2 separate regions of the Homo sapiens genome follow, and region 1 is linked to region 2. Evidence: fine-mapped expression QTL. A gene starts in region 2. The other region holds a variant in brackets. All regions are shown on one strand. Distances are between the middles of the regions. Region 1 overlaps MYO1F (myosin IF). Region 2 holds the start of MYO1F (myosin IF).

Region 1 (2,903 bases), 56 kb after region 2:
CTGGTGTGGGCCGACCCAAGCCCCAGCCTCGGACACATGGTCCCAGGTGCCGGGCCCTATACCAGTACGTGGGCCAAGATGTGGACGAGCTGAGCTTCAACGTGAACGAGGTCATTGAGATCCTCATGGAAGGTGTGTGTACCAGGGCAGAAGCTGGGGTGAGGGGAGTGGTAAGAACCCTGACATCGGCCGGGCGCGGTGGCTCACGCCTGTAATCCCAGCATTTTGGGAGGCCAAGGCGGGCAGATCACGAGGTCAGGAGATCGAGACCATCCTGGCTAACACAGTGAAACCCCGTCTCTACTAAAAATACAAAAAATTAGCCGGGCGTGGTGGCGGGCGCCTGTAGTCCCAGCTACTCGGGAGGCTGAGGCAGGAGAATGGCATGAACCCGGGAGGCGGAGCTTGCAGTGAGCCGAGATTGCGCCAACACACTCCAGCCTGGGCGATAGAGCGAGACTCCGTCTCAAAAAAAAAAAAAAAAAGAACCCTGACTGACATTGCCAGGCAGACCCCACCACTGCACACCCTCCCCACGGGAGAACAGAGATAACAGATGGGCGAGGTGGCTCATACCTGTAATCCCAGCACTTTCAGTGGCTGAGGCAGGAGGATCACTTGAGGTCAGGAGTTTGAGACAAGCCTGGGCAACCTAGCAAGACCCCATCTCTACAAAAGATTTACAAAAAAAAAACTTTTAAAGAGTAGAAATGGCCGGATGCAGTGGCTCACACCTGTAATTCCAGCACTTTGGGAGGCTGAGGCAGGAGGATGGCTTAAGCCTAGGAGTTTAAGACCAGCCTGGACAACATAGGGAGTCCCCATGAACAAGATGGACAGACCAGGCATGAGAGCTTTCTCCAGGGCCAGCTAGGGGCACCTCAAGCTTTCCTCTCTCCCACAGATCCCTCGGGCTGGTGGAAGGGCCGGCTTCACGGCCAGGAGGGCCTTTTCCCAGGAAACTACGTGGAGAAGATCTGAGCTGGGCCCTGGGATACTGCCTTCTCTTTCGCCCGCCTATCTGCCTGCCGGCCTGGTGGGGAGCCAGGCCCTGCCAATGAGAGCCTCGTTTACCTGGGCTGCAATAGCCTAAAAGTCCAGTCCTTTGGCCTCCAGTCCTGCCCAGGCCCTGGGTCACCAGGTCACTGCTGCAGCCCCCGCCCCTG[G/C]GCCCTGGTCTTCCTCCAACATCACACCTGCTGCCCATTCTCCATTTCTGTGTGTGTCAAAGGGGACTAACAGCAGAATCTACCTCCCAACTGCCATGTGATTAAGAAATGGGTCTTGAGTCCTGTGCTGTTGGCAAAGTGCCAGGCACAGTTGGGGAGGGGGGGGTCCTTAACAAGCGTGACTTTGCTCATTCTGTCATCACTAAGGCAATAAACCTTTGCCAGGTGAAAGCACGAGTTAACTTACTAAGTGCCCAACAAGGACGATGTTTTCACAGCCCTGTGAGGTAGGAGCTGTGAAGGACCCCATCTTACAGGTGGAACAATGGAGGTTCAGAGAGGTTCACTGACCCAAGACTGCACAGAGCCATGCCTTGCATTCATATGTGACCATAAAGCTTGAATTTGTCCCAGTTTGGGCTGGGCGCAGTGGCTCACGCCTGTAATCCCAGCACTTTGGGAGGCTGAGGCGGGCAGATCACGTGAGACCAGGAGTTCAAGACCAGCCTGGATAACACAGCAAAACCCTGTTTCTACTAAAAATTTAAAAAAGAAAAAAAAAAAAGCCGGGTGTGGTGGTGCCTGCCTGTAATCCCAGCTACTGGGAAGGCTGAAGCAGGAGAATCACTTGAACCCGGGAGGCAGAGGCTGCCGTGAGCCGAGATCATGCCACTGCACTCCAGCCTGGGCAACAGAGCAAGACCCTGTCTCAGAAAAAAAGAAAGGAAGGAAGGGAGGGAGGGAGGGAGGAGGTGGGCGCGGTGCCTCACACCTGTAATCCTAGCACTTTGGGAGGCCGAGGCGGGCAGATCACAAGGTCAGGAGATCGAGACCATCCTGGCTAACATGGGGAAACCTTGTCTCTACTAAAAATACAAAAAAGTAGCCGGGCGTGGTGGCGGGCGCCTGTAGTCCCAGCTGCTCGGGAGGCTGAGGCAGGAAAATGGCATGAACCTGGGAGAAGGAGCTTGCAGTGAGCCGAGATTGCGCCACTGCCCTCCAGCCTGGGCAACAGAGCGAGACTCCATCTCAAAAAAAAAAAAAAGAAAGAAAAGAAAATAAAGAATTTGTCTCAGTTTCCCTTCCAAAATCTGCATCCCAAATGGTCCAGCAGGTCCTGTTAGTCTTGAAGCTACAGCCGCCAAACCCATCTGGGACCTATGGAGAGAGGCAGGTCCCACATGCCACATGCTCCCACCCTCAATGCACTCTGGGTCACTCCTGCCCCCTGCACCCCAATCCCATTTCTGTGCCCTCTTAGTCTTCACCTAACTGGGACTAAGACTGGAGTCCTGCTATGGTCTGAGCCTAAAGATCCTGAATTTTGGGCTGGGCGCAGTGGCTCATGCCTGTAATCCCAGCACTTTGGGAGGCCAAGGCGGGCGGATCATCTGAGGTCAGGAGTTCCAGACCAGCCTCACCAACATGGTGAAACCCTGTCTCTACTAAAAATACAAAAATTAGCTGGGCATGGTGGCACGTGCCTGTAGTCCCTGATACTTGAGAGGCTGAGGCAGGAGGTGGAGGCTGCAGTGAGCCAAGACTGCACCATGGAATTCCAGTCTGAGCAATAGAGTGAGACTCTGTCTCAAAAAAAAAAAAAAATTCCTGAATTTTGGGAGTGGTGGTGCATGCCTGTAGTCCCAGCACTTTGTGAGGCCGAGGCTGGAGGATCACTTGATCCCGGGAGTTCAAGGCTGAAGTGAGCTATGATCGCGTCACTGCACTCCAGCCTGG
Region 2 (2,903 bases):
ACCTATTAGAACTGCCATTTCCTCACATGTCAAGAGGAGCCTCAGGTGGTTGGCTGGTGTCCCAAAGACCAGCTCATAGGCTGACACGTACCTGGGCCAGGCTCTGCTGGGGGGACCCACGTTCCCATTTTACAATGAGAAAAGGGAGTAACTAAGTCATCCAGGAAGTAGCCAAACTGGAGGCTGTTAAATCTAGATGTGACATCCAAAGTCAGGGACCTTTCAGATGCACCTGCTTCCCAGTACCCTCCACTTCTGCACACAAACACGTGTGACTTCTGAGGGTCATCTAAAGAGGGAGGTTGGGCCAGGCGTGGTGGCTTATGCCTGTAATCCCAGCACTTTGGGAGGCCGAGTTGGGAGGATCACCTGAGGTCAGGAGTTCAAGGCCGGCCTGGCCAACATGGCGAAATTCCGTCTCTACTAAAAATACAAATATTAGCCAGGTGTGGCGGTGGGCACCTGTAATCCCAGCTACTCAGGAGGCTGAGGCAGGAGAATCGCTTGAACCCAGGAGGCGGAGATTAAAGTAAGCTGAGATTGCACCACTGCATTCTAGCCTGGGTGACAGAGCTAGACTCCGTCTCAAAATAATAACAATAATAATAATGAAGGAGGTTGCCCAGGGATGCCCAGAGCAGACACAGCTGAAGAAGGCACCCTTCCCTGTTGTTGTTGTTTTTTTGGTTTTTTTGTTTTTTCTGGTTTGTTTTTAGAGACAGGGTCTCACTCTTTCGCCCAGGCTGGAGTGCAGTGGCGCAATCAGGGCTCACTGAGGCCTCCACCTCCCAGGTTCAAGCAATCCTCCCACCTCAGCCCTCTGAGTAGCTGGGACTGCAGGCTCATGCCACCATGCCCAGCTAATTTTTTTTCTTTTCATTTTTTGTAGAGATGGGGTCATGCTATATAGCCCAGGCTGGTCTCAAACTCCTGGACTCAAGCGATCCTCCAACCTTGGCCCCCCAAAGTATTGGGATTACAGGCGTGAGCCACCTCCCCTGGGCCCCTTCCTTGGTTTTAAAAAGAGACCCGGGAAGCCCAAATGCTTCCTGAATCGCCCTGAAAAGAGGTGGTTCGTCCTGCAGCCAGCTGACCCAAATGTTCCTGCAGCAGCCCTGTCCCCAAGGAGTTGGGGAAGAGGCCTCTGAGGTCCAGTAGTGGCTGCCATCAAGTTCTGACCCCTCCCTTCAGGCTCAGAGCCCCAAACAGCCAGCTCCCCGCCCCCCTCCACACCCAGCTTCCCTCCCCCATGGCCTCGGCCCCTCCCGCCAAAGGAAGTGAGAAGGGGCTGTTGTAAGAGGAACTAAAGCCGGGAGTCCGGTGAACGGGCAGAAGCAGGGCCATGCCCAAGCCACCCCCAAGATCCCCCTGAACCTGCACCTCCATCACGACCCATTCAGGAGCCTCCAGGAGCCCAGACACCAGCCCCCCACCATGGTAAGTCCTTCAAGGGTGGGATCTGGAAGAAGAAAGAGGAGGGACACCAGCCAGGTGGAGGTGTCCTAAAAATGACCATCAGAAATTGGGGTGAGGGGAGGGGCATGGTGGACTTCTGTGGGGGTGGGGTGTCTCTCAGTGCAGCTCAGGTGCCTCCAGCATCCCTTACCAGGGAGCAAGCTCCCATCTGTAGGTGGTGGGGATGCCAGGGTGGTATCCCTGGATCCAAGGATAGGGCAGGACCTGGAAGACAGAAGGTGGCCCAGGGAGAATCACAGAGTCTGCAGGGACAAGGACATAGCCTCCTTTGCTTGCAAATTAAGGGAGCCCTTTCCCAGTCCAGCCCAGTCTCTCGTCTCCCTGTGTAGCCTTGGGCTAGTCACTTCCCCTCTCTTGGCCCCGGTTCCCACAGATGTCATATTTGGAAATCCGTCTAGATGCGGAAGTTGCTCTTCAGGGGTCTTTCAGTTGCAACATTCTCAAGGTCTGTGGGTTCTGCCACAGAGTCCTCGGCTGAGATGGGAAGCTATGTCTAACAAGCGATGGGGTGGATTGACGCCCTCCCTGTGCCGGTGACGGGCGGTATGGCTGCAGCAGAGGCAGGAGAGGCTGAATACGTCCATGCCACCCTTTGGTGGGCATCCCTTATCCCAAGAGGAGGATGGCAGCCAGAGGTGTTGCTGCCTGTCAAGTCTGAGGTCTGTCGATGATAGCAACGGGGAGACTGTCGTGATCATGGCGCTATTCCTAGCAGTATCGTACCACCATAAGACGCAAAGTAAGAGGTGGCCAGGGCTGACCCCACCCCACAGCTCTCTGCTGTGTAGACCACTTCAGCTTTCATTTCTCGTCATTCAGTCAGTGAGGATGAGAGCATGTGGCTGTGACAGCGGCCACTGCAGGATTCTTGGCAGGTACAGCTTACTAGGGTGGAGTCAGGGACATAGGGCAAGAGGCAGAGGTGGTGTTAGTCTGAGAGACAACACCTTCTTTCAGGAAGCCAGTGAGGGCCAGGGACAGTGGCTCATGCCTGTAATCCCAGCATTTTAGGAGGCTGAGACAGGTAGATCACTTGAGGTCAGGTGTTCGAGACCAGCCTGGCCAACGTGGTGAAACCTCGTCTCTACTAAAAAATACAAAAAATTAACTGGGCGTGGTGGCACACGCCTGTAATCCCAGCTACATATGAGGCTGAGGCAAGAGAATAACTTGAACCCAGGAGGCGGAGGGTGCAGTGAGCTGAGATCCTGCCGCTGCACTCCAGCCTGGGTGACAGAGCACACTCCGTCTCAAAAAAGGAAAGCTGATGAGAAATTGGGCATCCCGGAATTCACACCCAAACCATCAGCTGGAGCTCTGAGACTGTTGGGGTGGGAATTCTTCCAAGATGAGAAGCAAGCCAGGGAGGCTCAGGTCCTGGGATGGGCAGGGCTTTGATCAAAAGAACACAGGAAGTGATTTGCTAC

Evidence for each region. PIP is the estimated chance that this variant, and not a neighbour inherited with it, causes the effect.
Region 1: its variant is fine-mapped to the expression of MYO1F in whole blood (TOPMed, PIP above 0.99).

What each region holds. Positions count from the first base shown.
Region 1 is chr19:8,519,606-8,522,508 of GRCh38, reverse strand. MYO1F (myosin IF) reads left to right here. Exons shown (of 28, transcript NM_012335.4): 27 at 1-132; 28 at 905-1,731. The coding sequence ends at 981. Among named protein-coding and RNA genes, the nearest start is that of ZNF414, 6.9 kb to the right of the region's middle. The variant G/C (reference allele first, on the strand shown) is at 1,167.
Region 2 is chr19:8,575,841-8,578,743 of GRCh38, reverse strand. MYO1F (myosin IF) reads left to right here and starts at 1,302. Exons shown (of 28, transcript NM_012335.4): 1 at 1,302-1,437. The coding sequence starts at 1,435. RefSeq lists silencers at 1,191-1,340, 1,878-1,927 and enhancers at 2,048-2,227, 2,398-2,457, 2,798-2,857.